Regions from separate parts of the Homo sapiens genome. Here regions 2, 3 and 4 are each linked to region 1. The links come from fine-mapping of genetic effects on gene expression. A gene starts in region 1. Each other region holds a variant in brackets. All regions are shown on one strand. Distances are between the middles of the regions.

Evidence for each region. PIP is the estimated chance that this variant, and not a neighbour inherited with it, causes the effect.
Region 2: its variant is the best candidate, but not a certain one, in a credible set for the expression of ROBO3 in tibial nerve (GTEx, PIP 0.58).
Region 3: its variant is the best candidate, but not a certain one, in a credible set for the expression of ROBO3 in monocytes (TOPMed, PIP 0.51).
Region 4: its variant is the best candidate, but not a certain one, in a credible set for the expression of ROBO3 in subcutaneous fat (FUSION, PIP 0.62).

The regions. Positions count from the first base shown.
Region 1 is chr11:124,861,385-124,869,003 of GRCh38, reverse strand. It overlaps ROBO3 (roundabout guidance receptor 3), which reads right to left and starts at 3,572. Exons shown (of 28, transcript NM_022370.4): 1 at 3,267-3,572; 2 at 1-202. The coding sequence starts at 3,426. RefSeq lists enhancers at 1-530, 2,580-3,256, 5,596-6,097.
Region 2 is chr11:124,912,739-124,920,357 of GRCh38, reverse strand. It overlaps HEPACAM (hepatic and glial cell adhesion molecule), which reads left to right. Exons shown (of 7, transcript NM_152722.5): 7 at 1-1,153. HEPN1 (hepatocellular carcinoma, down-regulated 1) reads right to left here and starts at 1,108. Exons shown (of 1, transcript NM_001037558.4): 1 at 1-1,108. The coding sequence starts at 607. The coding sequence ends at 341. All of the region lies in intron 1 of LOC107984406 (a long non-coding RNA gene), which reads right to left. The variant G/A (reference allele first, on the strand shown) is at 2,725.
Region 3 is chr11:125,053,838-125,061,456 of GRCh38, reverse strand. No RefSeq gene overlaps it. Among named protein-coding and RNA genes, the nearest start is that of SLC37A2, 5.7 kb to the left of the region's middle. The variant AG/G (reference allele first, on the strand shown) is at 4,326.
Region 4 is chr11:124,888,664-124,896,282 of GRCh38, reverse strand. It overlaps ROBO4 (roundabout guidance receptor 4), which reads left to right. Exons shown (of 18, transcript NM_019055.6): 4 at 1-85; 5 at 371-498; 6 at 598-826; 7 at 1,090-1,202; 8 at 1,914-2,082; 9 at 2,238-2,423; 10 at 2,553-2,595; 11 at 4,481-4,617; 12 at 4,721-4,984. It overlaps LOC107984406 (a long non-coding RNA gene), which reads right to left and starts at 4,484. Exons shown (of 2, transcript XR_001748429.3): 1 at 4,151-4,484. The variant C/T (reference allele first, on the strand shown) is at 3,638.

The sequences.
Region 1 (7,619 bases):
CCGCTGGGCAGCAGCAGGCGGTGCGCACGCGGATCCTCCCGCACAGTGGCCACACGCGCCCCGTTCTTGTACCACTCAATGTTGGGTCGGGGTCGGCCTTCAGCGCGGCAGGGCAACGTGGCGGGCTCGCCTCGGGAGACCAGCAGATCTGGCGGCTGCTCCACGATGCGGGGCATAGCGTCCTCCGGTCCTACCCTTGACCCTGGGGACAGGGGGTGGCGCAGAGCGTTCAGACAGGGAAATTGTGGGGAGAGATTGAGGCTCCAGAGGGAAAGAGAATCCTCTGGTCGTTCCATCTCCTATGCTTCTCTGCGGAGCTCAGTCCCCACCTGCCTACCCTCTCCCTCTGCAGGATCCAATATGTCCTTATTGGCAGACGTTCCGCGTTCCTCGTCTCAAAGGAAGATGCCTACAGACAGGCCGGTTAGTAGAGGGATCGGGACACAAACTTCTAGGCCGGCTTTCTGGACCACCTAGAGACCTCCGTCTCCTCTCCTGCCAAGTTTAAGCGGGAGTGGCTGAACCACGCTTGGCGAGTAGACCGCTCCCTCGCCTCCTGCCCAGTGGTTTCCATCTCCACCTGCACTGGTTCACGGATCGTCCTTGCTCAGTGAAAGACCATAAACCGTGCACTGGAGCCAACAGTTTGTTCTTGACTTCTGCAAGGTCCTGGCTCAGTGAAATTGGGAATGTGGACTGGCTTGGGATCCCTTATGAAAGGCAAGACGGGAGTGACAGGGCCGGGCCTAGAAGGGCTTGTCAACCTGGATTCTATGAATCGGCACAGGGCCCTTCTTACTGACACCCCGGATAATCACGCTTCATTTCAAGGGTCCTGTGAAGTCACAGGAATTGAACGCAAATAGCAGTAGAAATGTTAGTAAGGCTCCTTTTCCTGACAGGTGCATAGTTTCCAATAGATTATTCTACTGATTGATGTTCCTCTACTTCCCCTGTTCACTCCGATCAGTTCATCCACATATTCTGTCCTACCTGTCACTTGGCCTGCAGACTTTGGCCTGTTTCACCTTCTGCAGCACGGTTAGGATCCCGGAGCCTGTTATACTCCGGCACTCTCAGCCCCTAGTCCAGCCAACAAAAGTGGATTTGTAACCCGTGGCGGCCAGTAGGTGCCACTGCAGCCTTTAATAACCTGCTGTAAAATAACCAGGGACCACTTCAAGCATCTGTTCTGCCCCCTGCCCCCTCCCCCTGTTCCCCCCTTCCTACCCTGTTCCAAAATCTGCAGGAACCTCCCGCTTCCAGCCCGCCTGTGAGATTGGGTTTCATTTCCTGCCCCCCCTCTTAGAAGTTCTGTTGTAGACAAAGCTGGACAGGCTGACCCGTGCTGGCGCTGTTCTGAGTTTATTTTAATTGCCTGGAGTCAAGAAGATCGATTTCTGTCCCACTTGGGAGAGTAATTTTCTCCATCTCCTCCCTTCCAAATGGAAATCTCTGCTTTTCACCCTTCTCTTCTCCTCCATCTCCTCCCATTCCCAATTTTGGAACACCCCGTGGTGAGCAACACTGGAGTGATTGAGAGCAAGTGTTGCTGTTGAACCAACCAGGGCTGGAATCTCAGACTTTGACGCTTCCTAGCTGTAAGAACTTGGGCAAATTATTTAACTTCTCTCAGTCTCAGTTTCTTTCTTTGTGATGTGAGAGCAGTGATAGGGTTGCTCTAAGACCATAATGTATGTAAAGCCCTTGGGGGATAAACGTCACTACTCTGCCATTATTTAAGGGCTTGTGTTCCCAGCATATGCACCTTATCTTGGCTCCTACAGTCTCTACCTGAATCAAATTCTACCAGGCCCCAATATTCTTTTTTCCCCTTGGTATAGCCCTCAGGTGTAATGGAAATGGACTGATCTGTTATCGCTAGGTTTTGCTTCATGCTGCTTTTGTGACGATTAGGGCACCATTCACTCTATAAAGCGTTTTCTCGGCGGCAAAATGTGTCTGTCAACACCTTCCTTGCATACCTCACTAAGTTTCGAGCTTAGATGAGACAAAGTATGGTGAAAACACTCTGTAAACGCGCTAGGTGAGCAGAAGCGGGACTCTGCGGGGTGCCAGCGAGAAGGGATCTGTGCTTAACCTCCTGGAAATCTAGGAGGGTCAAGAGGTTGGAGAATCGGGCTCCTCCCCCATCGTCTTTCTCCCCAATCCTTCTATACGGACCACACCCTTCTGGTCGGCCTTTTCCCCCTAATTCCTGTAGACACAGCTGCAGGCGCCCTTTCCCTGGAATTTCCCCCTCTACCCTTCCCGGTCTCAGGAGATGCTTCGACTGCAGCCTAATGAATAGCTAATGGCCATGCTAATGAGGCTCTGGGGCTCCTCCCTCAGCACCTGATGTGCCCCACACATGAACACACACATATTGCCAGGGTCTCCTTTCTCTCCACCTTCGAGTCCCCAGCACAGTGCTCGTCACTAGACTCGAGTGGGTCGAGGCAGAGGGATGGGGACCGCGTGCACCTGGAGGGAACCACACGCGAAAGCGCCCGGTAAAGCGGGGGTTCCCGATGCGGCAGGCAGGGGGCGCGCTCCGGCCTCTCCGCAGGCTGGCGGCGGCCGGCTCCCGCAGCTTCCCCGCGGCGCTAGGGGAGAGCGCGCTGTCCCAGTCATTTATTAATCACCGTAATTAGCGGTAACGACCTCGCCGCCAGCTCCGCCCGCCCGCCACAGCTCTGCCGGGGTGGGCCGGCTGAGAGTCCCGCCGCTGAAAGACAAACTTCTAAGTTTCCTTAAAATGATCGCCGCCCCTATCCCCTCCGTAGCAAACACATCCAGCATTTTGGCTTCCTCTGGTCCTAAGTGAGTTCTTGGGAAACTTCGGGGTTCCGAAGACCAGCTGCCTGGGTGGGTCACCGAGTGACCTGGCTTGGCCGAGGCCGGCGGGAGACTGTGCCCCCTCCTCTGCCCTCCCTGCGCTGGGCCCGGGCCTTTCTTAGCTCGGACTTCCCTGCCCGTTACCAGCAACGGTTCTTCTCACCTGGGGTGGGCGTTGTAGGGGAAGGGAAGGAGGTGTAAAAAGACTCAGTAGCCATCTTCTCCCAAGCCCTCGACCTCCCGCGGGTACCCCCACTCATGTGCTCGAAGCTCCAAATTATCCCTTAGACCCCACGACCCAGGGAGGCGCTGGGAGGCGCCACTCAATCCCGGACCTCGGGACAGGAGCGCTTCTCCTTCCCTTCCACGCCGCCCTCTCACCTCATCCCCATCCCAGGATCCCATATCCCCAAGAGGCAGGGTCTCACCGTTGAGAGAGGGATCGCCGGGAGGCAGCAGGGTGTGGTTGAGCGCCGCCAGCGAGGAGTTGAAGCCCAAGAGCAGCTCGCTGGAGTTGGAGATGTCCCCGGCCAGAGAGTCCGCGAACAAGTTCATCTGCAGCAGCGTTTTCAGCAGGTAGCGCAGCATGGCTCGACCCAGCTGGGATCGGGACTGGGGGCTGGGGGCCCAGCCCCTGGGTCTGAGACCCGTGGGCTGGGAGCCGTAAGCCCCTCCACAGCCTCTGCGCGCTGCGGCAGCCACGGTGCCGCTCTCCTGCCGGTGCGCCTGGGTACGGTCGGTGCCTCTTCGTGCCCTCCTCCTTCCCTCGTCCTTCTCTCCACCCCCTAGTGCCGGAGTCCCCTGGGAGCTGGGCAGGCGGAAAGCAGGTGCCACGCCGATCACGGCGTAATTAAGGGATTAATCCGCCTCCCTCCACCCTCCCACCCTTACCTCTACAGTCACTATCCGAGCAGGAGACACGAGTAGCGTAGCGCGCGAGTTGGAGTCCCCGCCCCGCACCCCAAGCCCAGCGTTCCGTTCTGGACGCGGCGAGAGATTTTCCCTGTCTCAAAGCACCCAAGATGAGGGACGAGGCTCTGTCGGACTCTGCCCTTCTGCCCAACTTTAGAACAGGAATCTGTCCTCTCTTTTCCCGAACCTTTTGGAAACTGAGGCAAAGCGCAAGCAATGCTCCTTGCTGCCAAAGTTCTGGTTTCCATTCCCTCCCAAGTCTAGGGGTTTGGCGACGGAAGGGCAGGAGACTGGGGTGGTTTGCAGCAAGAGTTGGGAGTAGGCAGAGAATTCCAAGACAGGTCCACCTCTCTGCCCTCTGGTCCTTTGGTCTGCAGCCAGGAGGCCAGAGGATGGAGCGGCGCGCCCTGACCCGGGAGTCCTGCTCCAAACGCCCTAATCTAGGAGTTCCTGTAGGAGACTGAAAGCCAGGGAAACCCAGGCAACTGTCATTTATTTGAATCCTTTTACATTACCCTGCTTTGACATTTTTTATTAAATTGTTTTACGTTTTTGAGGAGACTGAAATGGAACCAAGGATTCTAGGACAAAAACAAAGATAATATTATTTTTGTAAAGGCATGTGGGATTGCTGCAAAATTAGTGCAAATCTGTTCAAATCGGATAGCAGTCGTCCTTCCTGGGGGGGGCGAAAAGAAAACCATGGGCCCCTACTCCCACCTCCCACTTCCAGTCGCGGTCTGCTTCTGACTTTTCTGGAGTTCTTTCTACCTGAAGACCCACCTCGACAAACTCACTTTCCTAGACAGGAGATGGCTTTGGGGTATCAGGGAAAGAGAGAGGCCGGGGCATTCCTAACCTGAGGTAAGGCCCTGCTGATTGAAGAGTCAGTGCCAGAGTTCTGGCTCAGCCGTCAGGTTCTGGGATGAGACAACTTTCATGGGGCGACTGCTTCTGACCCCAAAGGGGTCGAGATCAGAGGGGTGGGTGCTATACAGTCGCAGACTCTGGAGTAAGCAGAATCAAGAATTGAAATATTTCAGGCAGAGCTTGTTCAAGGGAACCCGAGACATTGTCAAGGGGTGGGGGGCTTGTTCCAAGCCTCCTTCCTCAGTCCAGGCGCCTGGCTGTGAGCCTCCAACTATGGGTGTTTAGGTGCCTTCCAACCCTAGCAGTTCTGGGCGGGACGTAGAAAGGCTGGAAGCACTAGGTGTGGGGGAGGGGGTAGGTGGGAGTGGGGGTGGGGCCGGATGGACCCCCCACCCCACCGCCACGCAGCGCCCTGGGAGCTGTCCTTTTCAGCACCTCATCTGCAGGTGCCTGACTAGGGCCCTGGAGCCCCCAGGGAAGACATAAATCCGAGCAGACCCTGAGGCTGAGGACTGGGGTAGGTGGGAGACGGGCTAGAGACACATCCTTTCAAAAGCAAGAAGATAATAAGAGATTTGACGCCCCTCCCTTCCTCGCTCCAGGGTGGTATTCAGATAAGAGAGAAAGTAAGGGATGTATTTCCCACCCGAAATCTATCCTTCAGGAATGACCAACACAGAAGTGGGTTCTAATTCTACGTTTGCCAAGTACAAGACGTCACCGCTTTGGATCTCAGTTTTCCCATCTGTTAAGGAGGAATTGGAGTGCTTGATCTACTCTGACCTGTGAGATTCGAGGCTCCGGGGCCCTTTGCTCCGCCCCCTGCTGACCGCGGTCACCTGGGTTCCATCACAGCAGAGGCTGAATCGGGATAGAAACCCCACGTCCTGGTACCAGGCCCTACTCTGGGGCGGAGGGGGCCAGAAACCCTCCCACCATGCGGCTCCTGCCCGGTCCTAATGCCCTGATTTGCTCCCGGCTGGCCTCTCCGCAAACACAGGGCCTGCCAGCGTCTAGGGGCTTGTCACCCTGTTAGCGGATTTGTTCCCGGAGACGGCGCAGTTAATTGGCCCTTTATGTGGGGATCAGGGCGTATTTGCTCAGGGTTCCCTGAGCGGAGGCGCGGCTCAACCCGTGAGCAAGGCTGCTTCACAGTCCCTGTCACGTGGGTTTGGAGGCTGGACAAATAGCCGGGCCACTCTACTTTCCAGGAATCTGCTGTCTCTCCTACACTTCACCTCGTCTGGGCTCTCTCTAATTTTCACTCTCCACTTTTTCTTGTTTCTCTCTGCTCTTTCCTTCTTTGTACTTCTCTTTATCTTGATGATACTCTCCTTTTAAACCAAACTCAGATCTAAGCCAAGAGGGCTGAGTTCTCCCAACTGGGGATATCAGAGAATAAATACCTCCCAACCATAACCTAAGTTCCCTCCCTTTTCCTTCCCATTCTCTAGTGTCCTTACGGCCCTGGGCTAGGCAGAGTGGAGCAGAGAGTGGGCAGAGAAGGCCCAGCAGAAGTCACACCTCCCAGCTCTTCTGCAGCCCTCTCCCCACCTTCTCTTCTTTACTGAGGGTCAGACAGGCAGCCTAGAAACTGGCCCTGCCCCTGTCCACATCCAGCTTCTCTCCTGGCTACCCCCATAGGCAGTTCTGAAAGGGGTTTGCCTCCTACTAGTCTCCTCACTGCCTGCTCTGCTCTCTGAAAATTACCAAGACAACTCTTTGTCCTTTTTCTGGAGTGGGTATGCAACTCTTTGCAACTATGTCCATTTCCTAATTTGTCAACTGTAAGTGCCTGTACAGCACCTAAAACACTGAGTAGATGCCCTGCAATTGGAGGAGCCTCAGCCGGGGTGCATTCATTCTGTTGACTTATAAATTTCCACCTTGGGCTGGAGAAAGAGTCAGAGTTGGGTTTAGAGACCCTCTCTTCTACCACCTCAGGAAACTACTTCTTTCCCAGAGTTTTACCAACAATATGTACAGTCCAGACTTTAGAAAGGGTAAGAAAAAGAAACAGAGGTTTTGAAGGAGATTTGGCAGAAAGAAGAGAGAGTAGCAGGAAGCAGGGAGGTTGGGGCGAGTTGAATTTGTAGAGTTAGGAGCTAAGTTTGTTCTGATAAGGTTACAGCATCTGATGGGAAGAAGTGTGTGTGTGTGTGTGTGTTTGCGTGTGTGTGCATGTGTGGGTTCACAGGTAGAGCCCTAGAAAAGAGCCCTGGGCCAGGAGTTGATGAGGTAATATAGAAGAGGAATATTTCTTTCCTATGGTGGTATTTTGGGTGGGTGGATTTGCAGAGGAACATGGGAAATGGGAAGGGCAAGTGATTATGAGTAAGGCAGGAACCCTACACAAGAGTGGTGTTTTGGGAATCATGAGCCTCTAAAGGAACTCTCCATCCCACCCCCCACTGGTGTGTGAGTGTGTGTGTGTGTGTTCACGTGCTAGGGGAGAGAACAGCTACCCCAGGCTAACTTTCTTGGCCTAGTGCCAGCATATCGGCCAGAGAATGTGGCTGGGAATTTTCAGTGGCCAAGCTGGGGCCATATGGGGAGGCTTCTTGGTGGTCTAAAGCCTGCATGCCGGCTGGTAGTGGATGAAGCTGCTGGCATGTAATTGCCCAGGAGTGCAGTCTGAAGACAACCCCCCATTACTACCACTGCCTCCCCCCAATGTACACACACACTGTCCGGTCCATTTGCATCCCCCCAGAGCCTGTAGCCTGCCATCACTCTCTGCCTGGACCCCTTCCCAGGACATTAATACATATTGAGTGTGAGATTGTGTGTGTGTGTGTGTGTGTGTGTGTGTGTGTGTGTTTGCTGGGAGGGGGACAAAGAAATAACATCTGCCCCTTACCCCCACTAGGGTATGCCTGTGAATGGCCCAGCAGGGCTGCTGGCTTCAGAGTGATGATGCCAGGGGGCAGCGACCCAGCCAGCAGGGGCCAGAGAACCAAACAGGAGGGGGAATCAGAGAGCAAAGAGCAGGCACCCAG
Region 2 (7,619 bases), 51 kb before region 1:
GGATGGGCTTATTCTTATAGAGAAGTGAATTTCACTTACTCCCCTGGCCCGAAAACTAGACCAAATGAGGAACTGTTTTAGCTCATCAAACTCATATATTCCTCCTGGCTTCCTTACAAAACAAGCCTTTCAAACAATCATTGTCCTCAGGAAAGTTGTTGAGCTTCCTCCAGCTGTGAGAATAAGTCCTAATCTCCAGAGAAATGGTGGGGGGAGGAGGAGGCTTATTGCTTCCCAGCATTTGGGGGGAACATGATCCAACCCCTGGCCTCCTGCCACCCATCTGCCCTGCTCCCACATGCTCAGGTCCCAGGGCACAGAAAAAGGGCAGACTCCCTAATCACACTAACATCAAAATAAAGAGGCTGGGCCGCTGTGTAGCCAGGACATGCCCATGCCACCGCCTATTGAACAGTTCATAGGAGTGGCAGTAATCTACTGTGTGAGGAGAGAGGGCAATTAAAAAGCTGAAAGAGAAGGAGGCCCTCTGTGTATTCCATTCCCTCCTCCTTAATGCCTCCAAGGGTCCTTGCATCCCTAGTCTCCTAAACTCCAGCTCTGATTCGCCATCAACCCATGGAGCAATTCCAAGGCCCCAGTTACCCATCACCTCCACACCAGGTCAAGTTTTGTCTCAGCCCCAAAGGCACTGACATTTCTAGTTTGCCCCCTCTGCCCTGAACCCCACAGCATGCCTGTCTCAGCTCCCTGTCCCTCGGCACTTCCCCAGGCTCATTTGAGCAGGTGTGCCTTCGCAGCTCCCCTAAACTTCCCAGGTGCCTCATCCATAATGAGATAATGCATGTAGGGGAAAAGTTTCTCAAGAAGGTGGAAGAGGCAGCAGGACTTGGATAAGGAGTACCTGCTGGTCAGCCTTGAGATGCACAGGTGAAGGTTAGGGTGAGATGAGAACATGCCATACCCTGGTGCTGAATCCCTGAGGGGCCAGCTTGCCAGGCTTAAGCCAAATCTGCCTTAAATTGGGGGTGGGGAGGGGTAAGTAAGGAAGTGGGGTTTGTTTTTGTGTTGTTTTCATCTTCATCTTTGTATTACTAGCATCCAGCAGAGTGCCTAGCACATACTGGATGCTCAATAAACTTTTGATGAAATGAAATGACAACTTTATTCCACATAAACAAGGGTAACAAAACAAGCTGCTTAAATATACCAGTCATTTCTCTTCTTCTCCTTTCACCTCCTTTACCCTCTTTCCAAACCCCAAATTGTCCGTTCCAAAATCACTTACCCGTTCATTCATTTACTTATTCAGGTGTTCTTTTATTTATTCGACAAACATTTGTTTACCTACCATGGACTAGGCCCTGTGCTAGACACTGCTGATACAGCATAACTATGTCAGGAAGACAGATCAGTAAACAGATTACAATATAGTGTGTAAAATGCAATGGCAGAAGTAGATACAAGGTGCTCTGGGAGCATGTAGATTAGATGTCAGCAAAGGCATCTTGGAGGAGAACAGACCTGAGTTGAGTCTTTCTTAGAAAGACTTGTTAGTTAATCTGGTTTTTAAAAGTATGAGAGGACACACTCCAAGCAGAGGGAGAAGCATGTATAAAAGCTTGGAAGTGCAAGACACGATGGGGGGGAATTCAGGGTACTGAGCCTAGCAGTTGATGAAATTATTTCAGGAAAGTATACAAAGTAGAAGGTGAAGAAAGCTGCAGATAGATTTCTGAGGCATCAGTATGTGTAGAAAATTTAAAAGGACTTCACCAAGAAGGCTTAAAAGGCACAGCCAGCAAGATAGGAGAATATATAGGAGATAACTATATCACACAATCAAAAGAACAAGAGAGTTTCAAGAAAAAGGGAGCATTCGGGACTACAAGGGCAGGGGGCTCACATATGAAATGAAGTTAAAAGTGCATGTTAAATTTGGCAACAATGAAAACATTGAGTGACTTGGCATAAGTAGTTTCAGACATGTAGTAGGGGTTAAAGCCAGATTGCAACAGGTAAAAAGTGATATGTGGAACTTCTCTGCTAAATACTTGAGACTAGATGTTTGAGAGGTCTTCCTGTTTCAAAACAACTAGGTCTTGCTTAAATGATATTTGTTTTGCATTGCTGGCTTCAAGAGATGGGGGAATTTTTTTTTTTTTTTCAGACAGAGTCTCATTCTTGTCACCCAGGCTGGAGTGCAATGGCGCAGTCTAGGCTCACTACAACCTCTGCCTCCTGGGTTCAAGTGATTCTCCTGCCTCAGCCTCCCGAGTAGCTGGGACTACAAGCACGTGCCACCATGTCCAGCTAATTTTTGTATTTTTGGTAGAGACAGGGTTTCACTATGTTGGCCAGGCTGATCTCAAACTCCTGACCTCATGATCCGCCCACCTTGGCCTCCCAAAGTGCTGGGATTACAGGCATGAGCCACTTCCCTGCCAGAGATGGGGGAAATTTTTAAGCAGTCAGAAGTAAAACAAAATTTAAAAGCACAGTGAGCTCAAAGTACTTAGCACTCATTAAATATGAGATTACCAAGGGAGGTGAAGCAAGATGGCTGAATAGAAGCCTTCACTGATTGTCTTCCTGCAAAAACACCAGATTGAACAACTGTCCACACAAAAAAAGCACCCTCATAACAACCAAACATCCAATGAGTGATCACAATACCTGGTTTTAACTTCATATCACTGAAAGAGGCACTGAAGAAGGTAAGAAAGACAGTCTTGAATTGCTGACACCACCCCTCCCTCATCACCC[G/A]GCAGCTGCCGCATGGAACAGAGAGAGAATCTCTGCACTTGCGGGAGGGAGAGTGCAGTCATTGTGGGGCTTTGCATTGGAACGCAGTGCTGCCCTGTCACAGGGAGAAACAACACCAGGCAGAACTCAGCCAGCACCCACAGAAGGAGCATTTAGACCAGCCCTCGCCAGAGAGGAATTACACATCCCAGTGGTTGGAACCTGAATTCCAAAAAGACTCACGACCATGGGTTAAAGTGCTCTGGGGTCCTAAATAAACTTTTAAAAGTCTGTCTAGGACACAAGGACTGCAATTCTAGGGGGGATTCCTGATGCTGTGCTGGGCTTGAAGCCAGTGGACTTGAGCATATGATCTAGTGAGACACCAGCTGGTGCAGCCAAGGGAGTGCTTGCATCATCCCTCTGCCAACACCAGGCATCACAGCTTGCAGCTTTGAAAAAGACTCCTTTCTGTGGTTGGAGGAGAGGAGCAGGAAGAGTAAACAGGACTGTGTATTGCAACTTGGATATCAGCTCAGCCACAGTAGGACAGGGCATAAGACAAGCTCAGCCACAGTAGGATAGGGCATAAGACAGAGTCCTGAGTCCCCCATTTCAGGCCCTAGCTCCCAGACAACATTTCTAGACACCCTGGGCCAGAAGGGAACCCATTGGTTTGAAGGGAATGACCCAGTCCTGGCAGCATTCATCACCTGCTCTCTCTAGAGCCCAAGGGCCCTCAATAATTTGCAATAGAACCCAAGCAGTACTTGCCATTGGCCTTGGGTGAGACTAAGAGACATGTTGGCTTCAGATGTCACCAAGCACCTTTCCAGCTGTGGTGGCTATGGGAAGGGGCTCCTTCTGCTTGAGAAAAGTTGAAGGAAGGATAAAGGGGACTTTGTCTTGCAGCTTAGGTACCGGTGTGGCCTCAGTGCGGTAGAGAACCAAGTGGGCTCTTGGGGTCCCCAATTCCAGGGTTTAGCTCTTGTATGGCATTTCTGGACCTGCCCTAGTGGCCATAGTGGAGCCCACTGCCTAGAAAGGAGAGTCCTATGCTTAGCAGCATTCATAAGCTGACTCAAGAGCCCTTGATCCATGAATGAACATCAGCAGTAGCCAGGCAGTATTGACCATGGGCCTGGGGCAGTGGTGACCAAGGGAAGAGACACCTCTGCTTGAGGAAAGGAGAGGGAAGAGTGGGAAAGACATTGCCTTGGGCTTGGGTGCCAGCTCAGCTGGAGTAAAATAGAGCACCAGGTAGATTCCTAAAGTTTCTTACCCCAGGCCCTGGCTCCCAGGTGACATCTCTGGACCTGCCCAGGACTGGTGGAAACTTGGCACCCTGAAGTAATGGATACAAGCCTGGCTGGCATTGCCACCTGCTGACTCTAGAGCCTTAGGGCCTTGAGCGAACATAGCTGGTAGCCAGACAGTGGTTACCACAGGCCTTTGGTGACACCTGGTGCTGTGCTGGCTTCAGGTCTGACGCAGCACAGTCTCAGTGATGGTGGCCACAGGGATACTTGTGTCACCCTTCTTCCAGCTCCAGGCAGCTCAGCACAAACAGAGAGAGAAGGAGAGAGAGAGAGAAAGGGAGAGAGAAGAGGAGAGGAGAGGAGAGGAGAGGAGAGAGAGACTGCTTGTTTTGGAGAAAGAAAAGGAAGAGAATAAGAGTCTATGTCTGATAATCCAGAGGATTCTTCTAGATCTTATCTAAGACCATAGGGTGGTATCTCTTCAAGTCTGCAGGAGCCACAGTGTTACTGGACTTGGGGTGCCCCCTAATGCAGATACAGCTGCAGTCACCAAAAACTAAATCACAACACCCAAGTTCCTTTGAATACCTAGAAAGCCTTCCCAGGAAGGAAGGGTGCAAACAAACCCAGACTCCAATGAACATCCACAAGCATCAAGACCATTCAGGAAATATGACCTCACCAAATGAACTAAATAAGTCACCGGTGACTAATCCCAGAGAGACACAGATGTGTGACCTTTCAGACAGATAATTCAAAATGGCTGTTTTGAGGAAACTCAAAGAAATTCAAGAGAACACAGAGAGGAATTCAGAATCCTATCAGATAAATTTAACAAAGAGATTGAAATAATTTAAAAGAATCCAGTAGAAATTCTGGAGTTAAAAACTGCAAGTGAAATACTGAAGAACACATCAGAATCTGTTAATAGTGGAATTAATCAAGCAGAAGAAAGAATTAGTGAGTTTGAAGACAGGCTATTTGAAAATACACAGTTATAGGAGACAAAAGGAAGAAGAATAGAAGAGAATGAAAGTATGCCTACGATATCAAGAAAATAACTTCAAAAGGGCAAATCTAAGAGTTTTGGGCCTTCAAGAGAAAATCGAGAGATGAGGGTAGAAAGTTTATTCAAAGGGATAATAACAGAAAACTTCCCAAACCAAGAGAAAGATATCAATATTCAAGTGCAAGAAGGTTACTGAGCAGATTTGACCCAAATAACATTAACTCAAGACATTCAATAATCAAACTCCCAAAGGTCAATAATAAAGAAAGGATTCTAAAAGTAGGAAGAGAAAAGAAACAAATAACATATAGTGGAGCTTCAATATGCCTAGCAGCAGACTTCTCAGTGGAAGCCTTGCAGGCCAGGAAAGAGTGACATAATATATTGAAAGTGCCAAAGGAAAAAGAACTTTTATTGCAGAATAGTATGTCTGGTGAAAATATTATTCAAACATGAAGGAGAATTCAAGACTTTCCCAGACAAACAAAAGCTGAGAGATTTCATCAACACCAGACCTATCCTATGAGAAAGCTAAAGGGAGTTCTTTAATCTGAAAGAAAAGCACCTTAATAAAAAATAAGAAATTATCCGAAGGCACAAAACTCACTAGTAATAGTAAGTACACAAAAAGACAGAATATCAAAACACTGTAATTGTGGTGTGTAAGCTACTCATATCTTGAGTGGGAAGACTAAAAGATGAACTGATCAAAAATAATAATTACAACTTTTCAAGACATAGTACAATAAGATATAAGTAGAAACAACAAAAAGTTAAAAGTAGGGGCATGATGTTAAAGTGTAGAGTTTTTATCAGTTTTCTCTTTACTTGTTAGTTTGTTTATGCAATCACTGTTAAGTTGTCATCAGTTTAAAACAACAGGTTATAAGATATTATTTGCAAGCCTCATCGTAACTTCATATTTGGAAACTTACAACAGATAACACGAAATATAAAAAGCAATAAATTAAAACATGTCATCAGAGAAAATCACCTTCACTAAAAGGAAGACAGGAAAGAAGAAAAGAAGAAAGAAGACCATGAAACAACCAGAAAAAAAAGTAACAAAATGGCAGAAGTAAGTCCTTACTTAACAATGATAACATTGAATGTAAATAAACTAAACTCTCCAAACAAAAGATGTTGAGTGGCTGAATAGGTTACAAAATAAGATCCAACAATTCGTTGCCTGCAAGAAACATACTTCATCTACAAAGACACATATAGGCTGAAAATAAAGAGATGGAAAAAATATTCCATGCAAATAGAAACCAAAAAAGAGCAGGAGTAGCTATACTAATATCAGACAAAATAGATTTCAAGACAAAAACTATAAAAAAAGACAAAGAAGGTCACTGTGATGGTTAATACTGTCAACTTGATTGAATTGAAGGATGTAAAGTATTATTCCTGACTGTTTCTGTGAGGGTGTGGCCAAAAGAGATTAACATTTGAGCCAGTGGACTGGAAAAGGCAGACCCACCCTTACTCTGAGTGGGCACAATCTTATCAACTGCCAGCGTGGCCAGAACAAAAACCAGGCAGAAGAACGTGAATAGACTAGACTGGCTTAGCCTCCCAGCCTACATCTTTCTCCCATGCTGTATGCTTCCTGCCCTCCAACATCAGACTCCAAGTTCTTCAGCTTTGGGACTCAAACTGGCTTCCTTGCTCCTCAGCTTGCAAATGGCCTATTTTGGGACCTTGTGATTGTGTGAATTAATACTCCTTAATAAATTCCCATATATGTATTATATATTATATATCTAATATATATTATATATCAAATATATAATATATATTTGATATATAATACATAATATGTATTTTATATATTATATATTATATATAAAATATATATTATAAAATATATATTTTATATAATATATAATATAATATATATTTTACATATTATATATAATATAAAATATATATTATATTATATATTATATATATTTTATATTATATATATTATATATAATCTATATTTTATATATTTTATATTATAAATTATATATAATATATATTTTAGATATTATATATAATATATATTTTAGATATTATATATAATATATATTTTATATATTATATATTTTATATTTTATATATAATATATATAATATATTTTATATATTATATATTATATATTTTATATATTATATATTATATATTTTATAGATTATATATATTATATATATGAAATATATAATATATATAATATATATTATATATATGATGTATATTATATATATTATATATATTATATATTATATATATGATATATATATTATATACATATAATATATATATTAGTTCTGTCTTTCTAGAGAACCCTGAGTAATACACATTTTGGTACCAACAAATATTAAGGATGGAGTTCTTTTGTTGGTTTTGGGGTTTCTGGAGTTGGCTGCTAAATATGATTAGACCCCAAAATGCTAAGGACTCTACTTCTAATAGTATGGAGAACACTAATAGTCCCTGGCATGAGCTGTTTACAGAGTTATGCAAAATAAGTGCATTTGACACTCCTGATTCACTGCTCATGAGAGGCAAGGAGTTTAGTGACTCTGTACATAATAACTTTGACCATATGTGGAGAACCAAGGAACATAATGAAGTTGGTTGGTTGCTCCTAAGTTCACTGG
Region 3 (7,619 bases), 190 kb before region 1:
CCTTGTCACAGTTACTTCCTGTGAATTCCAGCCACGTATCCCTGTTCAGGGGCCAGGGTGGCAGTGGGAACACTCCCACCAATGTTGGAACTCTTTCTTGCTCGCTCCTGTTGGTGAGCTGGATGATCTCTGTGCTTCCTGCTGCTTGGGGGAGTGACAAAGAGGGATATTGTGCCTCAGGGAGTCCCTTCACTCACCTACACAACCTCACCACTCTCGACTCACCTTCTTGTTATTATCTGGCCCCCCTCCCACACACTACCTCCTCAAACCCTGCAGAATGTGGAGAGGATCTGAAGGAAATAAAGAGGGAGGGAAGGAGCTACTCAATCAAATGCTAAAGGAAAAGATCCTCAGTTCTTATATGGATAGCCTTATACTCTGTCAAAAATGCTTCCTATGGTTCAGTATGAGACACTTGTGAGAAAGAAGCCATTTTACCCATCAAATACCAGTCCCTACTGCTAGTAAGTTCCATGACCACCCACAGGACTGTTGGGGTAGCCAGTTGGTGTTTTATGCCCTTTAAGACACGATAACAAGTGTCTTCCCTGTTTTCTTCAAAGGGACAGAAGGATCTGAATGCTTAAGAAAGTCTTTGAGGACAAATGACATGAGAATAAGCCACTAGGTAACAGAACTCCAAAATTTTAACACATCCACAAGCATCATTTTTTGAACACATTTGCCTCCTTCCACTCCTGTCTTACTAAACAGAGAAAAGCATATTTTTTGGTAATACAATCAAGACCAGTCTTGATCAAGGGGGTAAGAACTGGGATATTAGGATAAATTGTAATTATTCAATCTTTTAAATATTCAATTTCATAGTAGGCCTTTTGATGGAGAGGCGGAGTGGTGCAGTAAAAAGAACATTGGCTTGGAGTCAGAACCAAGCCTGGTCAAGATACTTACTACTTCACTAAGCCTCAGTTCCCTCCTCTGTAAAATGTGTGTAACAGCACCCACCTTACAGAGTGCTGTAAGAATCAAAACATATGTGCATACAAAAAGTACAACAGTGCCTGGCCATATTAAATAGGTTTTGCAAATGGAGCAATTATGTGTGCAGGAGCTAATATATATGGTATTAGGGTCAGATATTGACTGCAGCTGACAGAAACCAATGACTGTCATAAATGAGAACAAAATATAGGGGTTAAAGGATCAAAATTCTTAAAAAGGATCAATGGGTATAACAAAATATATTTTTGACTGCAAAATCCTTAATATAATGTGCTTGTGTGTGTATCTGTGTATGTGTGTATATATATACAACTTAACCCACTGAGTTATTGTAAGCTTTGTGGTAATACGTGCTGAATAATTTGGGGTTCACAAGGATGTATGTATGGCTTGAGTAGAGTGTCATAAAAATGAAAGAAGTTATTGTCTTAAATATGTTGGATGCTGAAATCTCACTAAGAATTACTACTAAATTCTTCCCAGCTAACAGTCAAAAGATAGATAAGCAAGGTGACCAAAGGTATTCAAAAATATCTTATTTCTCAATAGAAGTCAAACTTCTGGAATGCTTAGCAAAGAACATCCCAGCCCTTATATAACTGGCCAAAAGTAGGGTTTCAATGTACTGAAGACTAGATTGATGGTTCATAATGGCCTGAAGAGTGGGCTTTGGAGACCTATCAGTCAACCAACAGGGCAGCCCTGCTTTCAAATGGTCAACCTCCTTAGGATACCAGTAGTGACAACAGGTATATACAAAGACAGCCTGACAGCCAGTAGTCCTTAGGAAGAGAGGAGAAGGATGAAGAAATGGTTAAATTATGAAAATTTCCCAAAGTCACCTTGTTTAGAGGAAAAATTAAAAGGAATATATGGTAATGACAAAAGTGAGGTAGTCTCAGCCTGGTCACACAGCTGGGGACAATGTTTAGTTGTTCTAGTATCTGAAAGTAACCATTCATTTACTTGCTTAATAAATATTTGTTGCCTGTAATCCCAGCACTTTGGGAGGCCAAGGCGGGAGGATCACCTGAGGTCAGGAGTTCAAAACCAGCATGGCCAACAAGATGAAACCCTCCTCTTCTAAAAATACAAAAATTAGCCAGACATGCTGGCACACGCCTGTAATCCCAGCTACTCAGGAGGCTGAGGCAGCAGAATCGCTTGAACCCAGGAGGCAGAGGTTTCAGTGAGCCGAGATCGTGCCACTGCACTCCAGCCTGGGAGACACAGCAAGACTCCGTCTCAATAAATAAATAAACAAACAAACAAACATTTGTTAAGTGACAACTATGTGCCAAGCACAGTGCTATGTGCTGAGGATACATTAATGAAAAAGACAGGCCAGGCACGGTGGCTCACACCTGTAATCCCAGCACTTTGGGAGGCTAAGGTGGGCAGATCACCAGGTCGATCGAGACCATCCTGGCTAACACGGTGAAACCCCATCTCTACTAAAAAAAAAAGTATAAAAAAAAAATTAGCAAGGTGTGGTGGCGGGTGACTGTAGTCCCAGCTACTCGGGAGGCTGAGGCAGGAGAATGGCGTGAACCCAGAGGGTGGAGCTTGCAGTGAGCCAAGATCGCGCCACTGCACTCCAGCCTGGGCGACAGAGCAAGACTCCGTCTCAAAAAAAAAAAAAAAAAAAAAAAACAGACAGACACAGTCCCTAATCCCAAAGAATTTACAGTCAAAGGGGACAGAGATGTATAGAGATAATCCCACTTCAAAAGCTTGGCAGAAGAGATCAACTCAAACAAGAAATAGGTTATATAAACAAGAAAATGTTCATGCTGATATGGTGGCACTGATCAAATAACTCCAGGAGAGTCTCAGAAGGCTTACTGTAGACAACATAAGAACTAGATTTGAAGAACAGCTTAGTGCATACCAAGTGAAGAGGAGAAAGGTGGAACCGGAAAATTGCATGTGCAAAATAAGGAACCATGAAAAAGCATGGTACATTGAAGAAATGGTGCATAAGACATTCTTTGTAGCTGGTGAGTACATGTGCAAGGTGGGGAGCTGCAGAAGATATGACTTATTACATGTGGTGAGATAGTGAAGAACCTTCAATGTCAACAATAACAGGTTGGAACTGTATTCTTTAGACAGTTGGGTGCTATAAGACAGCTTTAAGGGTGAAGACAGGATCAGATTTATGTTTTCAGAGGAGAAATGGCCATTTAACAGGGCTTTGTCAGACTTCCAGTTCTGGATGAAGATAGAAGAGATACACTTCTCTCTATTCTTCTTGCTAGGTACCGTTAAAAACCATTGACATTATATATAAAGCAAGCATAAGAAAACTCTGAAAAGTGGAGAGAAGACAGATCAGCGAGGGACCTTGAGATCTAAGGAAAGACAGTGGTGAGTTATCTGGGTTTGCTCTTGGCTTCATATATCCCGGACTGGGTGCTGAAGAAGCCAGCAAATCCAGAAGCACCAATGACACAGACAGAACACCAAAGCTCTCAGAAATGCTGGCTCTGTCTAGCCACAGGACCAAGGAAGGGGTAGCGTGGCAATAACCACCCTGCTCCAACTAAACCTCATAGAAAACACTGCAGCCCCACCCCACCTTATCAGCAAAGGCCAGTGGGGAACCTAGACTTCCACTTGCACCTGGCTGTAATGAGGGGTGCCCCCCCGCCCACCGCCTGGCTGGTGTCAGAGAACTCCAAGTGGGAAAGCAGGACTTTCACCACCTTCCAATGGTAAAGAGCGCCCCACCCCAACCACCAAGGTGTCATGGAGGTCACATGGGGAGCAGTAAGGAGCCCATACAGGGCGATATCAATGGAGGCCTAGTGGAGAGCCAGAACTCCCACCCTTTCAAGCAGTAATGAGGTGCCCTGCCCTGCCTCCCCGAACCAGGGATGTTAACAGAGGTCAAATAGGAAACCTGGACTTTCACCCCCCGCCACCCCTGGCAGAGTAGATAAAAAACATTACCCAAATACATGCTGTCACTTTCCTAAGAAACTAAAATACACTTACCATACACTTATTGTGCTCCTGGGCTTTTATCCCAGATAACTGAAAATTTCCATCCATACAAAAACCTGTACATGAATTGTCCATAGCAGCTTTATCTATAATAACAAAAAACTGGAAACAACCAATATGCCCCTCAATAAAGTTAAACAAATTGTGGTACATTCATACCATGAAATACTACTCAACAATAAAAAGAAATGAACTATTGACATAATGGCATTATGCCAAGTGAAAAAAAATCAATCTCAAAAGGTCACATACTGTATGATTTCATTTATATAACAATCTCAACATGACAAAATCATAAAAATGGAAAAGGGATTAGAGATGGACTGGAGTTAAGGAAGGTGGTGGTTGAG[AG/G]GGGTGTAACTTTATAGGGGTAACACAAGGGAGGTCTTTGTGGTGACAGAATAGTTCTGTATTTTGTTTGCATTGGTGTTTACGCAAATCAATGCATGTGATAAAATAGCAGACACACACATACTGTACTACGGTTATGTCAAATGTAATCACTGGGGAAAACTAGGTAAGAGGTACCAGGACGCCTCTGAACTGTTTTTGTAACTCCCCGTGAATCTATCCTTAGTTTATAAAAGTCTTATATATATAAAAGCTCTGTCAACTTTAATTTCCTTTTAGTAGTTCTCAGTTTTCTAATTCCAGAAACAGGATGGGAGAAATTTACTTTTTAAGTAGAAATCTTTCCTTTGGAGAATATGCTATGGAGCAGCATGGTCAGCTGCCCATATTAACTCAAGTACCTCACTAGCAATACAGATTTCAGTACTGTGCCTTGGATTCCAAGTTACGATACTCGTTTTTTTTCTTCAACTTTTAAGCTCAGGGGTACATGTGAAGGATGTGCAAGGTTGTTACATAGGTAAATGTGTGCCATGGTGGTTTGCTGTACAGATCATCCCCTCACCTAAGGATTAAGCCCAGCTATTCCCCCTGGTGTTCTCCCTCCACACCCAGCCAGTGCCACCCCCAGCCCCCACCCCGCCTCTGACAGGCCCCAGTGTGTGTTGTTCTTGCCATGTGTCCCTGTGTTCTCATCATTCAGCTCCCACTTGTAAGTGAGAACATGCAGTGTTTGGGTTTCTGTTCCTGCATTAGTTTGCTGAGGATAATGGCCTCCAGCTCCATCCATGTTCCTGCAAAGGACATGATCTTGTTCCTTTTTATGGCTGCATAGTATTCCATAGTGCGTATGTACCAAATTTTCTTTATCCAGTCTATCATTGATGGGCATTTGGGTTGATTTCATGCCTTTGCTATTGTGAATAGTGCTACAATGAACATACCTGTGCATGTATCTTTATAATAGAATGATTTATATTCCTTTGGGTATATACCTAGTAATGGGATTGCTGGGTCAAATGGTATTTCTGTCTGTAGGTCTTTGAGGAATTGCCATACTGTCTTCCACAATGGTTGAACTAATTTATACTCCCATCAGCAGTGCAAAAGCGTTCTTTTTTTCTCTGCAATCTTGCCAGCATCTGTTGTTTTTTGACATTTTAATAATAGCCATTCTGACTGGCATGAGATGGTATCTCATTGTGGTTTTGATTTGCATTTTTTTAGTGATCAGCGATGTTGAGCTATTTTTTTAAACGTGTAACTCTGCTTTTATCGAACAGCTTCATCGGCACCTCTAGACGGCTAGGAGATAATACTCCTCCCTACTACTCAGACAAACAAATTTAACTTGCAGAGAACAGACATGCCTGGTTCACACAGTGATGCTGGTGGAAAGATGAGACAGAAGCTCTCCCCAAGGGCCACTCCATTTGTAGAAACAGATTCCTTCTTATCATTTGGGACTAACCTCTGTCCCTGTGACCAATTAAGCCTATGATAGGCTTAATTAAGCCTAAGATAGGCTCAAGGAAGTTGTGGGAATGCCTCCCTGCCTTACACTGCTCCTTAGGTCTACAACTAGGAATGCATTCTTATTGTAACATCGTGAAGCAAGAGGAATGAAACAGGGAGAACAGGTTGAACAAATGAAAATGGAAATGGGTTTAGAAATCAAAAGCATGTGACTTCAAGAAGAACAATCATGCCTTTCACAGGCAAGGACTGAAAGGTCTTCAAGTGAAGAGTTTTATTAGTAAGATTAAAGAAGGTCTGAATAAACAAACCAGCACTACACAATAAAGACTGAAGATATCCCTGCTGCCTCTAGATGTCTACAGCATCCCCAACAGGTAAGCTCCAGATCTGGAAAAACTCAACTCTTTCATCTGCTTTGTCCCAGCAAAAACTTCATCCTAGAATTTCCCTACAACTCTGTAACACTAGCCTGAGAGCCCTGGCTCCTAGTACACTGTTGGCATTCCTTATTGTAAAATATACGAAGAACAGGCTACAAGAGTCAGGAATCAAGATCAAGATGGAAATTTCTGGGAAAAGAGTGCTGATCCACTCTACCTTCTTAGAAACTCATTCTCAAGCCCAAATGTTTCTTTCTTCAAAATTAACATCCAAATGTTCACTGTATGCCAAAGCATGCCTTAGTAATTTCTATTTTCTTTCCTTTTTTTTAATTAAAATAATTTGTTTTAGAGACAGGATCTTTCTCTGCCACCTAGGCTGGAGGGCAGTGGTGCTATCATAGCTCACTGCAGCCTCGAAGTCCTGGGCTCAAGTGATCCTCTCATCTCAGCCTCCTGGGTAGCTGGAACTACAGGAATGTACCATCATGCCCAATTAATTTTTTTTTTTATTTTTGCCTTTTTAGAGATAGGGGCCTCGCTATGTTGCCCAGGCTGGTCTCTACCCCTGGCCTCAAGTCATCCTCCCCCCTCAGCCTTGGGATGACAGGTGAGAGCCACCATGTTCAGCTTGTCCAGTATTTTCTGATCACTGTTACTAAACCTTTTCTCCCCCTTCTTAGTAATGAATTGAAACAAGTACTTCCTAGTTTATGATAACAGAGTTTCAGCTAGAGAGAAATGGACATGCCCAGATATCTCTAGAAAAGCCAGAAAACACTTCAGTTTCTTTCATGTTATTGTCTTATCAAGTCCTCGTCTACTGCACAGAATGAAATTTAAGGCACGCACACACACACACACACACACACACACACACACACACACCTCAAAATTTAACAATCCAATCACGTTGAAAACAGATGCACTATGAACAAATACACAGTCCAGTTAACAAGTATTTTAAAAGTTAAATCTGAAATTCCTTATGAAAACTTCCAGCAATGTAAACTGAAGGAGACTTTTGTGGTAAATTAAAATGCTTACCGTACTTATAGTTAGATCCAATCCAATGAGACCGGCCTTATTTTGTGATCAAGCATAGTCTTTCTTTCAGACTATTTTGATCGAAATGGGAGAGGATGTAGAAAAAAATTTATGTTTCAGTGGAAAATAATGTATTGTCTAGAGGACACCCCTCCAAAGTGACCTGATTTTAGCCTAAAGTTCTCCTTGGTTTAACAATTCTGCAAACTGTAGATAAATATGAAAAACATCAGTTTTGCCTCCATTTGCACATCCAATCCAACATTCTTTTATCTATATAAATTTGTGCATTTTTTTCCTTTTTTCTTGGAACCAGTTGAAACATCTACTTATTTCCCTCATGAATTAAATGTTTAATGCACGTTCATTTTTATATCTGTATGAGTC
Region 4 (7,619 bases), 27 kb before region 1:
AAGAGTGACGAAGGGACCTACATGTGTGTGGCCACCAACAGCGCAGGACATAGGGAGAGCCGCGCAGCCCGGGTTTCCATCCAGGGTAAGGGCAGGGGTGGGCTACAATCAGAGCCAGGCTGCAGGCTCCAGTTGGGGTGGTGTATTCTGGTTTGGGCTGGGGTTAAGGTATGTGGGGTCAGGGTCAAAGTGCTGGGGGTCTCACGTAGCGGGAGGTTCCCCCCTGCTAGAGTAGAAATCGGAATGCTCAAGACCTGGAGACTCTGGGAGTTTGGGTTCCCTGGGGTTCCTCCCTGGCTGAGGGATGTTCCACGCCTCAGTTCTGTCACTCTGGCCTATAAGCCCCAGCCCAGCCCTATCCTCCCCACAGAGCCCCAGGACTACACGGAGCCTGTGGAGCTTCTGGCTGTGCGAATTCAGCTGGAAAATGTGACACTGCTGAACCCGGATCCTGCAGAGGGCCCCAAGCCTAGACCGGCGGTGTGGCTCAGCTGGAAGGTGAGGACCAGGTGCTAAGGGTAAAAGCCGATCCAGAGCTCAAGAAAGGGCGTTCCTGAGCTCTCTGACCCCCCGCCCTTCCTCGAAACTCCTTCCCAGGTCAGTGGCCCTGCTGCGCCTGCCCAATCTTACACGGCCTTGTTCAGGACCCAGACTGCCCCGGGAGGCCAGGGAGCTCCGTGGGCAGAGGAGCTGCTGGCCGGCTGGCAGAGCGCAGAGCTTGGAGGCCTCCACTGGGGCCAAGACTACGAGTTCAAAGTGAGACCATCCTCTGGCCGGGCTCGAGGCCCTGACAGCAACGTGCTGCTCCTGAGGCTGCCGGAAAAAGGTCAGGGCCTGATCCCTTCAGAAGCCAACAATATCCCCTCTGGCTCCTTCTTATTTGGGGGCCCCTGGACTGTTCTGCTTCAGTCTTGAGGGGAGATTATGGGTCCTACCCTGGGACTCCCTTCTGCCCTGGCCAGGCCAGCAGAGCTTCAAGAGGCTTCTTGTCTCTTCAGTAGGGTTCTGACGCTGTGTCCCCCAGCCCAGCTCCTTTCCCTAGAGTCCTCTCCCTCAGAGCCCCTCATAGTCTCTCTTCCACCCCTCCAGTGCCCAGTGCCCCACCTCAGGAAGTGACTCTAAAGCCTGGCAATGGCACTGTCTTTGTGAGCTGGGTCCCACCACCTGCTGAAAACCACAATGGCATCATCCGTGGCTACCAGGTACCCCCACTAGCTGTCATAGCCCTTCCTACTGCTGCCAGGACATCTCTTTTCTCTGGAGTTCTGCATACCCTTGCTCTGGGCACTGAGAAAGGTACCTGGGCAGAGAAGCAAAGGAAACCTGCTTTTGCTGAGCAAGGACCCACTGGCTTCCAGACCCTGCCAAGCACTTGACCTCCATGATCCCGTTTTACCTCACAGTCCACCCTGGGGTATTATCCCCAATTTACAGACATGGAAAGTGGGGCAAAGGCCACAGGAATAAGAAACAGAGTAGATCAAACCAGGCTGTGAGTCAGGGAGTGGGGCTCAAAGTTTGACTTCTAGAGCAGCAACATCAGCCTCACCCAGGACCTTGTTAGGAATACAAACCCTCAGATCCTTTCCCAGGCCTCATAAATCAGAAACTCAGAGATGGGCCTGGCAAACTGTACTATAGCAGGCCCCCCTGGTGACTTGGAAGCACGCTGTTGTTTGAGAATTGCTATGTTACATGTGTTTTAGCAGCTTGCTTGTGCCCTTCTACTGTTGATCTAGAGAGAGGTATCTCTCACTTGGTAGGGAGAATAGGAGGGGAATAGGAAATTGGGTGCATTCCCCAAGTGGATGGCAGGGCAGAATAACCACACCCCTGGAGTCTGATCTGCAGATAAAGGGCTTGGCTTCTGGGATGGTGCCTGGGGAAGCTGTTCACCTCTGCTTGTGCCTCAGGTCTGGAGCCTGGGCAACACATCACTGCCACCAGCCAACTGGACTGTAGTTGGTGAGCAGACCCAGCTGGAAATCGCCACCCATATGCCAGGCTCCTACTGCGTGCAAGTGGCTGCAGTCACTGGTGCTGGAGCTGGGGAGCCCAGTAGACCTGTCTGCCTCCTTTTAGGTGAGGGCAGTGCCCACAGACCCACCCTACCCTTCAGCCTGCATCCCGCCTTCCTCTCTCCCTGCTCCCGCCTCACACTTCCAGCTCTTCCCCCTTGCCTGCCAGGCCCTCAATGCCTCGACTCCCTCTCCCTCTGAGCTCTGCATCCCATACAGAGCAGGCCATGGAGCGAGCCACCCAAGAACCCAGTGAGCATGGTCCCTGGACCCTGGAGCAGCTGAGGGCTACCTTGAAGCGGCCTGAGGTCATTGCCACCTGCGGTGTTGCACTCTGGCTGCTGCTTCTGGGCACCGCCGTGTGTATCCACCGCCGGCGCCGAGCTAGGGTGCACCTGGGCCCAGGTGAGAGTCTGAGGGGGACCCACATGTATACAGGCCTCCTCAGCATCCAGCCAGAATGGTGCAGGGGCTTTGGATCTCTGACCAGGTGATCCAGCCTCTGGATTTAGCTTTCCTCCTGCCTTCTCCCAGGTCTGTACAGATATACCAGTGAGGATGCCATCCTAAAACACAGGTGAGAGGTGAAAGGGGAGGTCTGAAGTAAGGGAGGGTGGCAAGGGACAGTGGAGCTGCAACAGAGAAGAATGGAGTACTAGTCTACCTGCCAGGGAGTTTGGGACTGTCGTACATGAATCTCTCCTGTAACTCCAACTGATAGTTCATTTCTCTGTCATTAATATTCCTATCACACCACTTGACAGACTAGTAAACTGAAACTCATAAAACCTTCTAAACCCCCAATCCAGGACTCTTGTCACCCCACCTCTCCTGCTGCCTCACCCGCTAGGTGGAGAATAATCAGCATGAGACGACCACCTCAAATGTCTCATCTTATGCGTGCACCCATGGTCTACCAAGTAGTGCCTTTGCACTCAGTAATTCTCTCACTGAGCCATTGTGCCTACATCATAGTCCACCCGCAGCTCCAGCAGAGGGTGTTCAGTGCCTACATCATAGATTCTTCCTCACTGTTCTCAAAAACAGGATCTGCCCATGGGCCCTTCTGCTTCCGGTATATTCGGCTGCCAGAACAAGTCTGCAGTTCTGGGACATCATGCTGATAGAGAACACATCCTTCTTGCTCCCGTTGTCTGAGTTTTGTACTAAGTAACCGCCTCATCTCTCTGTCTGCCTTCTTGGCTCTTTATTTCGCTAGATCTCCTCTGGGAGGCTTCCCACTCCAGGTCTGCATCTATCCACAGAAGTTACTGAGCACCTACTATGTGCCAGCAAATCCAGGCCTAGAGCTGCCATTTCACTGTCAGGTCCTCAGCCCAGAGCAGGGGTCCAAGCTGGCTGGTGTTGTGTTTTGAGTTTTCTGAGCTCACTGGCTTCTTTCTTCCAGCTACCTCCTGGCTTTGTCTGCTCTGCCTTAAGCTTTCTGTGGCTTCCCTAGGATCTCCTGCTCTGTCCTTGAGGGAGATTCCTTCTGATCTTTGGTTCATTCTTTCCTTTGGAATAGCCTCCACCTGCCAGAATCTCTCAGTGTAGGCAGAGACAGGCATGAGGGGATATGAGTGCAATCCTGTATTGGCCACGCAGAAGCAGGTACAAGA[C/T]ACATGGAGGGGGTCAATGTGGAAAAACATAGGAGAAAGAAGATTCCACATTACCCTGACAGTAAGAAGGGGATGGAGAGAAGAGCAATGAAGCAGCAAGTAATAGCCTGCTATGTCCACAGGGAAAGACAAACCATTTGTTCTGGCTCGGGTATAGGGTGTGAGATGGGTCAGAGCAAAGGCTATAGTTAGGGAGCTGGAAGCCAGACCAAGGAAGGTCCTCTTAGCCATGCTAGGTACCTGGGCTCTATCATGGTAAATGAGGGGCCATTGAAGGTCTTACGCAGAGAAGCTCCTTGCTCAGATCCCTGTTCTTGAAGGATCACTCAGGCAGCCAGAGGCCAATATCCATGGAGCAAGCTCCTGCTCTGCCAGCTGAGTGATCTCACATTTCCTCATATAAACCCAGACCATCAGTCTTGAGTGTGGAAGGCCCTATTGCCATCATTTTACAGATGAGAAAACTGGGGCTTAGAGAGGATGTACTTACCCAAGTGCAACAGATGTACTTACCCAAGCTAAGCTGTGACAGATAGAGATTGTCAAACCAGATTTGTCTTCAGGTCTTCTTTTTACCTCAGCATACATAGCTGTCTGTCATTACTACCTCCCAGCTCTGGGTGACTCGGATTTCCCCTCATCCAGGAATAAGAAAGGGGTGCTGGGTTTAGGGGACCAGGTCAGAGATCTTAAGGAGTCTGTGAAAAGCTGAAAAGCAGTAGTAAGGATAAAGCCACCATCTCCTTGCCCTCTTCTGCTGCCTCTGAACAGGAAGTCTTGGCCAAAAAGGTTCTCACTTCTCCCTGTTTCTCCTGGCCTCACCCCCTCCCTCCACTGCCCCAGGATGGATCACAGTGACTCCCAGTGGTTGGCAGACACTTGGCGTTCCACCTCTGGCTCTCGGGACCTGAGCAGCAGCAGCAGCCTCAGCAGTCGGCTGGGGGCGGATGCCCGGGACCCACTAGACTGTCGTCGCTCCTGTGAGCATGCTCAGTGGGGGCAAGGGCCTAGCTGGGGGCAGTGATCTCAGGGATGGAAAGCAGGACATGCTCACCATAATTCCTCCTGTCATTTATGTCACAGTGCTCTCCTGGGACTCCCGAAGCCCCGGCGTGCCCCTGCTTCCAGACACCAGCACTTTTTATGGCTCCCTCATCGCTGAGCTGCCCTCCAGTACCCCAGCCAGGCCAAGTCCCCAGGTCCCAGCTGTCAGGCGCCTCCCACCCCAGCTGGCCCAGCTCTCCAGCCCCTGTTCCAGCTCAGACAGCCTCTGCAGCCGCAGGGGACTCTCTTCTCCCCGCTTGTCTCTGGCCCCTGCAGAGGCTTGGAAGGCCAAAAAGAAGCAGGGTAAGGAGGGGGAGAATAGACATAGACTGAGCTGGTGGTAGGCGGGCCCAGGAATGGGAATGTGATGGGAACAAGGCCTCAAAGCCTGGAGGGGCGTGCAACCTCCACACCCTCCTTCCATTCTCCTCTCCAGGTGGACACAAGACCTCTTTCTCCTACCACCAGAGCACTCAGCTAGGGGTGCAATAGCCTCAGCTTTTTGCACTGTGCTCTTGTTTCAGTTTGGCTACACCAGCAGTGAGCCCTAATTCTGCACTCAATTCAACTCAGCAAACGTTTAATAAGCACCACTGCATGCCAAACATGGGGAACACAAGAGACGTCAGACACAGCCCCTGACTTCTAAGGGCTCAGGGCCTGTCTAACGAAAGTGTTGACTAGCAAACAAGTAATGCTAGAGCCTGGGGGAATGTGACCAGTGCTGGCACAAAGCCTCAGGCTCCCACGAGCTCATCTCCTGGTGTACTATGTACAGGTGTGCTTGGGCACCGACTCCCAACTCACTTCTCAGAGAGGAATGGGTATTTCCTTTCTGGACAGGTTTATCTCCTGACTCCCAGCTGCATTCTTAGACTTTTCAGAGAAAAATAATTATAGCCTCCATTTTTTATCAATTGCTATATACTAGGTGCTTTACTTATGTTTGTTATTTCATTTAATCCTCACAATAGATTGGCTAGCTACTATTTCTCTAATTTTACAGACAGGAAGAGGGTCAGAATGATTGAGTTACTGGTTCAAAATTCTGCAAGTAATTAGCTGCAGGACTCAAATCTGAAGGCAGGATAGTCTGCCTCTGAAGTGATTCTGAGTCTCTCTGGAGCTCCCTCAGGAAATCCTATTCTCTCTTTGAGTATTTTTTCCTATTTCTGGCCTGCAGAACATTGGCCTGCAATCTACCTGCTGTCTTCTTGAGTCTTCTGTACTAATTAGTAAGACCTAACAAATGTTCTACAGCCAAGTCTTTTTTTTAAGTGGATTTAATCCAACTTTTAATAAGACAAAGATGGATTAAGATAATTAACAGCTTGTTCAATATCCAGAATTTTATGACTGTAAATATCAGCGAAGCTGGCATTCTTACCAGCTTTGCCTCAGAGCTATTGCATTATAAATCCTTGGTGGTAACGAAACACCAGCTAAAAAAAAGGTGGAATAGTCTCATTTAAAAAACAGCCTTCCCAGGGAGAACTACACCAACTTTAATGGAATGGATAGCCCCTCTTAGAACAGTAATGCTACTGGAAAGAGGTGAGTGGTTTTCTACAGCCAGTTCTTAAGAAGGGTTCCAATTCTGAGATGAGGCTTCCTAGCCTGTGGTTTAGGTCCTTACTTCACTCCCTGTTTCTCCTCGCTCCAGCCCCATCTCACCACTGCCCCCAGGATAGGTCAACTGCAGCGACTCCTTGGCTGGTAGACACTAGATATTCTACCTCTACCTCCCAGGACCTCAGCAGCAACAAGATCATGCTATGGTCTTCTCCAGACCCATGGAGTTGATTCTACTGCTGTTTCTTCCTCTTCTAAAACTGGCAGGCTCTCCCAGTACCACCCACTCCCCTTGACCTGCTTGTTCCTTTTTCTTATTATTTGGCCTTAGTTGGGGTTTCTTCTCCAGTGCTGATATCCTCACAATTACAGTCTCCTGTCTCTCATCCATCATAGCAGGTTCTTAGTTCTGCTCAGTTTGCCAGATATATGCACTGAATATCCTCATTCATTCATTATTTTATTCAAACAAATATTTATTGCAATTTGACCAATGAGTTTCAACCTTTCACCTTGATAACATTTTTCTTGTCCAGTTTATTCAATTAGAATTGAAACTAAAGTCCAAGTAACTCCAAGCAACATAGGAGGAGGGCTTTTGTTACCAGAGTCCCTTAGAGGAAGTGAAACAGGCTAGGATAAAAGTGGCCTTTTCCAGGCCTGGCTGTTTTCTTTCCCTTTCCACTCAAACCAGCCAACCAACTTGTGCTCATATTTCTGAGCTTAGTCAAGAAGCCAGGCACCAGACAAGACATAGCTGATGATAGCAGAGTTGGTGCACCAACCCTGAAGTTGGCTCCCCAGATTACCTGGGTCATATGAAAGCTATAGAAAATCAATAAAAACCAAACAGCCAAAGTACCAAAGGAAACTTTGACGGAGGGAGTCTAGTCATTGATGAGTTTTCATCCTAAAGGATCAGAAGGTCTGGCCACTAGTACATAAATGGGGTCTTGGTCAATGCCAAAGCCTGGCTCACTTCCCTTCTCTGAAGCTGCCCGTAGTGGCCCCCAGATCTCTGATATGTGACTGACTAGATAGCTCTACCCTGAAGGTCCTGCCTGGTCCCTGGTCCACCAAGAGGGGAAACTCTTTCCTAGCTGGGCTTCTGGTCATGGGACACTAATCTAAAGGCTGTTTCTTTTCTCCTTTGTCTGATGTTCTTCAGGTTCCTGCTCCTGGAAAAATCTCTCTCCTGTATTACCCTATTCCTCTCTGGCTTAAACTTAGATCCCTTTTGCATTCTGGTCTGACCAAGAAGCATGCTCACAGGTCATTGCACATAGTTAGGGCTGTCTCTTTAGTTTCCAGCTTCTCTGTTGTGAAAGTTCACTCAGAGCCCTGTCTCTCCACTGCCCATGTGGGC